Homo sapiens: one gene and its partners. The gene in region 2 interacts genetically with the main gene of each other region. Each region holds a gene or a part of one and is shown on either strand. Other genes may lie near its edges.

The links.
Region 1: changes in FH (region 2) and COX6C together harm fitness less than expected from each alone (positive genetic interaction), as found in Homo sapiens cells (one large-scale study listed by BioGRID).
Region 3: changes in FH (region 2) and CARS2 together harm fitness less than expected from each alone (positive genetic interaction), as found in Homo sapiens cells (one large-scale study listed by BioGRID).

The regions. Positions count from the first base shown.
Region 1 is NC_000008.11:99,883,698-99,887,355, forward strand, and holds part of COX6C (cytochrome c oxidase subunit 6C), read right to left. Parts: intron 1-3,658. UniProt on the Homo sapiens protein: Component of the cytochrome c oxidase, the last enzyme in the mitochondrial electron transport chain which drives oxidative phosphorylation.
Region 2 is NC_000001.11:241,497,101-241,500,085, forward strand, and holds the end of FH (fumarate hydratase, mitochondrial), read right to left. Parts: intron 871-2,985; coding exon 728-870; 3' UTR 503-727; downstream 1-502. UniProt on the Homo sapiens protein: Catalyzes the reversible stereospecific interconversion of fumarate to L-malate. Experiments in other species have demonstrated that specific isoforms of this protein act in defined pathways and favor one direction over the other.
Region 3 is NC_000013.11:110,695,984-110,699,641, reverse strand, and holds part of CARS2 (probable cysteine--tRNA ligase, mitochondrial), read left to right. Parts: intron 1-1,674; exon of another isoform or gene 1,675-1,676; coding exon of another isoform or gene 1,677-1,724; intron 1,725-3,658. UniProt on the Homo sapiens protein: Mitochondrial cysteine-specific aminoacyl-tRNA synthetase that catalyzes the ATP-dependent ligation of cysteine to tRNA(Cys). In addition to its role as an aminoacyl-tRNA synthetase, has also cysteine persulfide synthase activity.

The DNA of each region.
Region 1 (3,658 bases), on a different chromosome or scaffold from region 2:
TGATATCAAAGACAAACACACGAGAAAACTATAGGCCAAATCCTTTAACACAGATGCAAAAATCGTCAACAAAACACTAGCAAACCAGATTTGACATCGCATTAAAAGAATCATGTACTATGATTAAGTGGGATTTATCCCTAGGATGCAAGGATAGTTCAACATATGCAAATCAATAGATGTGACATACCACACTGACAGAATGAAGGATAAAAAACACATCTCAAAAAATGCAGAAAAAGTACTTGACAAAATTCAACATCCTTTCATGATCAAAACTATCAACAGAAGGAATGTACTTCAACCCAACAATGGCCAAAAAGGACAAGTCTAGTATACTGAACATGGAAAACGTGAAAGCTTTTCCTCTAATACCTAGAACCAGACAAGGATGCCCGCTCTTGCCACTTCTATTCATTGTAGTACTGGAAGTCCTAGCCAGAGCAATGAGGCAAGAAGGAATAAGCAACATCCAAAAAGGAAAGGAGTAAGTAAAACTATCTGTTTACAGATCATATAATCTTACCTCCAGCAAACCCTAAAGATTTCTAACACACAAGTGTCAGAATACATGAATTCTACTAAGTTGGAGGATACAAAAATCAGCTCTTTCTACACACCAACAATGAAGGAAATAAAGGAATGCCTAATAAAGGAAATTAAGAAAATAATTCTATTTATAATAGCACCAAAAATAATACTTAGGAATGTATTTAATCAGGAATATGAAAGACTTAAACACTGACCTAGATGAAACAGATATATACCTGTATACTGCTAAAAAAATTAGCAAATCTCATTCATGCAATCCCCATGGTAACCACAAAGAAAATACAGAATATACACATAAGGAAGTAAGAAGGAAACTGAAACATGTCACTATAAAATAAAGGAAAAGTACGGAAAGAAATGTGTGTCCTTGGACACATTGTTTTGATTATAGTAGTCTCCTTTTATCCAAGGTGATATGTTTCAAGACCCTTCCAGTGAATTACTGAAACTATGGATGGTACCAAACCCTATACAGCTACGTTTTTTCCTATATATACACATACCTATAATAAAGCTTAACTCATAAATTAGGCATAGTAAGAGAGTAGCAACACTAAAAGAAATTAAAGATGCAAACTACTGCTAAAAGAAATTAAAGATACAAATAAGAGGAAAGACATCCTGTGTTCATGGATTGGAATACTTAATATTGTTACGATGTCCATACTACCAAAGTAATCTACAGATTTAATGCAATCCCTATCAAAATCCCAATGGCATTTTTACAGAAATAGAAAAATCCATCCTAAAATTCACAGACTCTTAAGGAACCACAAATAGCTAGAGCACCCTCCGGGTGGGGTGAAAGAAAGAACAAAGCTAGAGGACTCACACTTACTGATTTTAAAGCATACTACAAAGCTACAGTGTAGCAGTCATCCCTTATTTGTGGTTTAACCTTCCACCGCTTTAGTTCTACCCACAGTCAACTGTGGTTCAAAAACAGGTGAGTACAGTACAGCAAGATATTGAGAGATCACATTCACCTTTTATTACTATACACTACAATTGTTCTATTTTGTTATTGTTGCTCATCTCTTACTATGTCTAATTTATGAGTTAAACGTCATCATAGGTATGTACGTACACGAAAAACAACATAATATATACAGGGTTTGGTACTATCTGTGGTTTCAAGAATCCACTAGAGGGGTCTTGAAACATATCTTAGATAAAACGGACTACTGTAATCAAAACAGTGTAGTACTGCCCCGAAGACAGACATACAGACTAAAGAAATAGCCCAGAAATAAACTCTCGCATTTAGAGTCAAATGATTTCACCAAGGTACCAAGACCACTCCATGGAAGAGGACAATCTTAAATGATTTCGGGAAAACTGGATACCACATGTAAAAGAATACAGTTGGATCTTTACACCCTACACAAAAATTCAAGTGAATCAAAGATCTAAACATAAGAGCTAAAACTATAAAAGTCTTAGAAGAACACATAAAAAAGACTTCATGACATTGGATTTGGCAATGATTTATTGAATATGACACTAAAAGCACACAGAACAAAAATAAAAATAAATTCGACATCAAAATTTCTGTGCATCAAGGGACACAACAGAGTGAAAAGGCAACCTATGAAATGGGAGAAAATATTTACAAATCATATCTGATAAGGGGTTAATATCCAGAATATATACAGAACAACTCAACCAATAAACAAAAAACCAAATTTGAAAATGAGCAGAACTGAATAAACATTTCTCCAAAGATAACATACAAATGGCCAATAAGTACATGAAAAGATGCTCAAGAACACAAATAATCAGGGAAATGCAAATCAAAACCACAATGATACCACCTCATACCTATTAGGATGGCTACTATCAAAAAATACCAAAATTATGCCAGGCACAGTGGCTCACGCCTGTAATCCCAACACTTTGGGAGGCCAAGGTGGACGGATCGCCTGAGCCCAGGAATTCAAGCACAGCCCAGGTAATATGGTGAAACCCTGTCTCTACTAAAAATAAAGAAGTTAGCCAGGTGTGGTGGCACATGCCTATAGTGCCAGCTTCTTGGGAGGCTGAGGCAGGAAGATCCCTTGAGCCTGGGAGGTTGAGGCTGCAGTGAGCCATGATCGCACTACAGCACTACGGCCTGGGTGACAGAGGGAGACCCTGTTAAAAAAAAAATTAACAAGTGTTGGGGAGGATGGAAAGAGTGTAAAATGGTGCAGCCACTATGGAAAAGGGTATGGCAGTTTCTTAAGAAATTAAAAATCATATGATCCAGGAATTCCACTTTTGAATATACCCCAAAAGAATTGATAGCAAGGCCTTGAAGGAATATTTGCATGCCTAGGTTCACAGCATCACTCACAACAATCAAAAAGTGGAAGCAACCCAAGCATCTACTGATGGATGAATGGATAACAATGTGACACAACTAAAATAGATCATTCAGCTTTAAAAAGAAAGGAAATTCTGACACATGCTGTAACATGGATGAACCTTGAGTACACTACGCTAAGTGAAATAAGCCAGTCACAAGAAAACAAATACTGTGTGATTCTACTTATGAGATGCCTGGGGTAGCCAAATTCTTAGAAAGTAACACAGTGGCTGCCAGGGTCTGAGTGGAGGTGTGAATGGGTTGCTTAATGGATATAGGGTTTCAATTCTGTAAGATGACGAGTTCTGGAGACTGGTTGCACAACAATGTGAATGAACTTAACACTACTAAACTGTACAATTAAAAATGGTTAAGATGGCAAATTTTATATTATAGATGCTCCTTAACTTACCATCAGGTTACATTCTGATAAAACCATCATAAGTTTAAAATATCTTAAGTTGAAAATGCATTTAATACACCTAACTTACATCATAGCTTAGCCTTCCCTACCTTAAATGTGCTCAGAACACTTATGTTAGCCTACAGCTGAAGAAAATCATCTAACACAAAGCCTAGCTTATAATAAAACACTGAGTATCTCACACAACACTACAGAGTACAGCATCAGCTGTTTACCCTTGTGATTATGTTTCTGACTGGGGGATGTGGTCATTGGTGCTCCCCCACATCACAAAAGTATTGTGCCACTTATTGCTCATGTGGACAAAGATCAAAATTCAAAGTATGGTTTCTACC
Region 2 (2,985 bases):
GAGATAGGGATCTCATTATGCTGCCCAGGCTGGTCTCAAACTCCTAGGCTCAAATGATCTTTCTGCCTCAGTTTCCCAAAGCGCAGTCTCCTAAAGTCGGTGTCCCTGACCCACCATGCCTGGCCTTGATCTGGTCCCTCTGTGGTAACAGAAACAAGGTTGGAGGGATAGGTGTGTGTTTAACACACAGGATATGTATGTCCCAATTTTCTTAACCTATTCTATCACACACACACACGTGCGTGCACACACACACACACATATACACATCCCCACTCAAAAGGGCTTGGTCACTGTGTCTCCAAATCAAAGGAAAATAAAAGATGGCTAAGGACATAGTTTGGGAATGAGATAATAAGATATAATCGGGCAATTTTTTAAACCACCAATAACCTCCAAAATTAAAACCCTTTAGAAATTGGTAACTTATGAAGTCACAAAGACAACATGCACAAATATCATAGATTCAACTATAATACAAGTCAATTAACATAGGAGAAAATTTAAGTCTGTTTTCCTTTTTATTTTATAAATGTATTTTATTTTATACTTGTTTAATCCATCTTAGACCTAGCACATCCTAGGGTTTTATATACTGATCAAATTGCTCTGCTAGAGATGCTTAAGTTCAATAGCAGTTTCCTTTCAAACTTATCCGTTTTTAAGAAATGGGAGTCTGTTTTTTTAAATTTTATACATGTTTATTTTCATTATAAATTTATGTAAATCACTTTGGACCCAGCATGTCCTTAGGTTTTACCCATTCGTCAAACTGCTCTGCTGTGAGATAGCCAAGTTCGATAGCAGTTTCCTTTAAGGTTGATCCATTTTTGTGTGCTGTCTTAGCAATCTTTGCTGCCTTGTCATACCCTGAAGAAAAAATAAAAAGACGACATATGGGTTAGCAGTGATATTTGGTTTCCTAAAGCAAAAGGTGACATAATTGTTTACTTGATATTGATGCTATATGGGCCTCTTAAATGACATTTTTTGTTTTTAAATTAGTTAACAGTGATTATCTCAATAATCATTTTTTATGTAGAACATTTACTTTCCTTAAGAAATAAACACTTAAACATACCTCACTTTCTCCAACAGATTTGTTCCTAAGTTGAAATTTTCCAGTAACTTAGATATTTTGAAGGGGAAAAAAGTAGAAATTATAGCACCACGACATAAAAATATACATCTGGGTATATTTTTCAAACAACATGTTTAACTAGAAACAATTATCTTTCTAAAGAAACATTAACAAGCTAAATGCTCCAGTCCAGCAGAAAATAAAGCACTGCACGTCTGGCAACTGTGGTGAGTGGCTCTGAGAGGGGAGAAGTCCTCGCAGTGAGGCAGGCGCAGGCAGGGCCTGGGGAGGGGTGCCTCCAGAGCTGCTTCCAATGGCTCTTCTCTATGTGGCTCTCCACTGCAATGGCTTCTATACCCTGGCCTCCTCCCAGACATTACAGGGACACAAATAGGGAGTCTGGGCAGAAATACAGACTGCACAAAAGATCACAGGCATACTGTTTACTTCAGAGTTATTTGCTTTTCAAATTAATAAAAGTGGGGGCAGGGCAGTTCTGCAAGCTGTCTTAACATATATATATATATATATATATATATATATATATATATATATATATATGTCAAGAAGAAAAAGCAGGAATGAAAATGAAACCAATGCGGGAGAAAAAAAACAAGATCAGAGAAATATGACCAAAAGGAAGAAGCTTGCTGAGGCAGTATACATCATCAATAAGATGGCATGTGTCAATATGCAATTATTAATCAGCTATAAAAGAAAGCATGGGCATAGTTACTTTTATTACTTAACTGAATTTGTGAATGCTAAATATGTTGAAAAGGGCATTTATTGATCTGAAAGGGCATTTATTGATGCCATTTACTGAAAAGGGCATCTTTCTTAAAGCAGAAATGCTTTGAGAAAGAATTTGCATGTTAAACTCTTGAGATCAATATATATCCAGTACTTTTATTTTAATAATGGCTTTAAAGTCTAAGCATTTCAGCTGTCAAGTCCAACAAGACACTATTGGCAACCAGCCTGGTACATAATGAGAATATAGGGAACCCATGATTCAGAGGGTTGTAAGGCTCACACCAAGTCAACTAGTGAGGTGGTGTTGACCCATCTCATTCTCATATGGCCTCTAACAATTCTTTTTATGTCACAATAAGTTGATTCCAATAAAGATTTGCCAATCATTCAACTTTAGGAGACACCTCTAATTTAAAGTTTTGGTAACACATTCTGAAGTAAAGATCTGATGAAAACTGCTCACACGAGCCTCTGGGTTCCCCTTTGTGTTTTTCCAGATGTAGTTGATGTACCATAATTTTAAATGGATCAAACATTATTACCAATCTCAATGCCACACCAAAAAACTGATATCATACTGGGCTCAGAGCTACCTAAAAGAGTCAAATGAGCTCTAATTTTAAAAAACTGTAATTATAGCTTGATGTGAAACCAGGAATATAAAATTTGCCTTGAAAGTTCAAGATTATAGAAGAAGCAGTAGCCATATTATGCCAAATAAGTGAATCATAACTTGTTCTATAACAGAAAGGCAGAAAATATATTAACCTCTGCTTAGCAGAAAGGAAGAATGGGTAAAAGGCTTTTAACACATCATAATATAATGCAACATAATGCCTCAAAATCTACAAAAGTGTAAACAGTTTATTTAATGGAGATCTCTATGGTCAGTCTACTACCCAAATCTGTATGTTTGATTCTACATAATGAAATATTTACAGTTCCAAAAAAGACTTATAATACAATAGCATGGTTTTAGACAAAATATTTGCATTTTCCTTCCTCCCTTTCACTATAAGCAATGAATACATAAACTTTTTCTTTTAATTGTAACTTTCCATTTCTGAATTGAATAAAACAACAAAATTAAAGCATTGTAGAGATCTAGGGAAGGTAGAAAAATGAGTTCATTCAATGTTGCTAATCAG
Region 3 (3,658 bases), on a different chromosome or scaffold from region 2:
TTTTGCCCATTTTCACAATTCACTGTGGTTTAGCATACAAGACAGTCTATTCATTTGTGTGTTAGTTAGGATGACTGGCTATTTCCTTTTCCTGAATCTGATGAAGGAATTTAAGTAAAGCTGACCTAATTTTGATGTAGACGAGATGTAGTCTTGTGATACTTTGCCAGTTACCACTGCTTTTACCAGCATGTGTTACAGTGGAAATGTTCTAACATACATGAAGTAGAGAGAAGAGCATATGAACCCATGCACCTGTCACCGGCGTCCATGGTCAGCACCTGTTCCACCCCTGTTCTCTCTGCTTTTTGTGGAGACCACCTGTGGATTGTCCAGTGGTGGGCTGCTGTTTGGCAGTTTGACCCTCCAAGAGCATTAGACGGTGTTTGTCTTAGTCTGTTTTGTGCTGCTGTAACAGAACACCACAGGTTGGGTAATTTATAATGAATAGAAACGTATTTGCTCACTATGCTGGAGGCTGGAAACCAAGATCAAGGTGCCAGCATCTGGCAAGGGCCCTCTTACTGCATCATCCCATGGTGGAGGGCAAGAGGTCAAGGGGAGAGAAAGAAGCCCTGCCAAAAGCCCCCTGCCCCCACCCCTCCTTGGGTTTTTTTTTCTTTTTTTTTGGAGACAGGGTCACACTGTGTCGCCTAGGCTGGAGTGCAGTGGTGTGGTCATAGTTCAGTGCAGCCTTGATCTCCTGGGCTCAAGCTGTTCTCCCACCTCAGCCCTCCTGGTAGCTGGGACTCAGCTGTGCACCACCACACATGACTAATTTTTTTCTTTTTTCTATTTTTAGTAGAGATGCGGTTTCACTATGTTGCCCAGGCTGGTCTCAAACTCCTGAGCTCAAGCAATCCTCCTGCCTCGGCCTCCCAAAGTGCTAGGATTACAGGTGTGAGCCACTGCACCTGGCCGGAAAGCCCTTTTAAGAAGGCATGAAGCCCATCCAAGAGGGTGGGGCCCTCACGGCCTAATCACTTCTTCAAGTTCTCACCTCTTAATACTGTTACAAGGGCAAATAAATTTCAACATGAGTTTTGGAGGGGACAAACATTCAAACCATAGCAGTGTTTCTGGTGCTTTTTAAAAAAAACTTGCTGGATTTTTTTTTTTTTGAGACAGAATTTCACTCTTGTTGCACAGGCTGGAGTGCAATGGTGCTATCTCCGCTCACTGCAACCTCCACATCCCGGGGTCAGGCGATTCTCCTGCCTCAGCCTCCCGAGTAGCTGGGATTACAGACACCCACCACCATGCCTGGCTAATTTTTGTATTTTTAGTAGAGACGGGGTTTCACCACGTTGGCCAGGCTGGTCTCGAACTCCTGATCTCAGGTGATCCGCCCTCCTCGGCCTCCCAAAGTGCTAGGATTACAGGTGTGAGCCACCACGCCTGGCCTGGATTTCTTTTTTTGAAAAAAAAATATACATATACATACTTTTTAAGTCAGTGAGATTTGAATTATAGCATTTGTCTGTCATTGTGGCTTCCCTTCCTCTTTAACCTCCCGTCACACCCATGCATCTTCCTTTTGTGAAATGGGGTGGAACTAGTGACTAAAGATTTGGATTGGAAGTCAGAGGCCGCCTTTGGGCTGGGGCGTTTATCTGAAAAGAGGCTGAACTTTGTCATTTGTTGAGTGAACAGAGCTCTTCTCTTGTCTCTTAGGCATGAGTCAAAGGAATGGTGTGAGGTCCTTGAGGAACATTTTCACTGAGGTCTCTGTCTTCCTATTTTCTATTGATTTGTCTTTCTCATAACTGGGTAGTCTCCCACCGCATGGGGCTGTTTAGCAGTTCTAGCCTTTTCCCAATTGCTGTTTGTATTGCTTCTGGCTGTTAAAAAGAGTGCTGCTATGAACATATATGCTTTTGTTTTGTTTACTTATAAATATATTTCCTGTGGCTGGGTGCAGTGGCTCACGCCTGTAATCCTATACTTTGGAAGGCTGGATCACTTAAGCCCAGGAGTTAGAGACCAGTCTGGCCAACATGGCAAAACGCTGTCTCTACTAAAACACAAAAAATTAGCTGGGTGTGGAGGTGTGCACCTGTAATCCCAGCTACTCGAGAGGCTGAGACACGAGAAGTACTTGAACCCGGGAGGTGGAGGTTGCAGTGAGCTGAGATCGTGCCACTGCACTCCAGCCTGGGCCACAGGGTGAGACTCTGTCTCTAAATAAAAAGTTAATTAATTTCCAAAGCGGAATTGCTAGGTCAAAGGGGGAACAGTTTATTTGATATCTTGCAACTGAGAGTCAGATCATTGAGAGACTGGCAGTGCTGGAAATCGGCTCCCACTTTAAATGTATTTCTTCACATCCTTACCCCCAGCCTATAAGAGGCAGGATTTAGAAGGCAGGTGCGTGATGTCTAAGGCTGTGCGTGAATGTCTAGTCACCAGGTAACCCTCAGCAGAGGTGGTGTTTGGAAATGCCCCACTGGTAAAGAAGGAAGGTCAGTGGTTCGGGGCTTTCACCTGCCGTCGGGGCAGCCAGAGCCTGAAATGAAAGCACTTGGTAGCTTCGTGCCTCTCATGAATCTTCAAGATCAGAAAGAATTGTGTCAGTCCCCATGTCCTGGTGGCAGGGAGCTGGTAGAGGCTGAGACACTGGCTGAGTTCTGGAGGGAGCCCCATGGGACAGAGAAAGGGCCCCGCAGGGGATGGGAGGAGAGGTGAGGACACAGTGTACTTGGAGGGTGTCATGGGGGCGATGGGGAAGGTGGGGCAGGAACGTTGCCATCAGAGAAGCGGGACAAGAGCCCCGAATCCAGGGAGCAGAGAACTGCAGGAAGGAGGAGGTGGCCAGCGTGGTAAAGGGAGGAAGAAGCAAGAGTTAATTTCACAGATGCCACAAGGAGGGATTGGTTGTTAACTTTTTTAAAAATGTTATGATTAGAATATGAAAAACTTGGTAGAATTGGTTAAACATTCTAACTGTAGAGAGTAGTTAATTTTTGAACCAGAGAATTTCCATACTTGGTACACAGCAAGATCCTAAGATGGTATTGAATAGTTTCTTTCCTCAAAATAATGTCTGACTTCAATGTAATAAAACATGTATCTGAAACCCATAGTTATGAAAACATCTGTTTTTTAGTATTTAGTGAAAAGGTAATTCTTTAAGAAATGCAAATCAAAACCACAGTGAGATAACATCTCATGCCAGTTAGAATGGCGATCATTAAAAAGTCAGGAAACAACAGATGCTGGCGAGGATGTGGAGAAATAGGAACGCTTTTACACTGTTGGTGGGAGTGTAAATTAGTTCAACCATTGTGGAAGACAGTGTTGCGATTCCTCAAGGATCTAGAACCAGAAATACCATTTAACCCAGCAATCCCATTACTGGGTATATACCCAAAGGATTATAAATCATTCTACTATAAAGACACATACACACGTATGTTTATTGCAGCACTGTCCACAATAGCAAAGACTTGGAACCAACCCAGATGCCCATCAGTGATAGACTGGATGAAGAAAATGTGGCACATGGAATACTGTGCAGCCATAGAAAAGGATGGGTTCATGTCTTCTGCAGGGACACGGGTGAAGCTGGAAACCATCATTTTCAGCAAACTAACACAGGAACAGAAAACCGAACACCGCATGGTTCTCACTCATAAGTGGGAGTTGAACAATGAGAGCA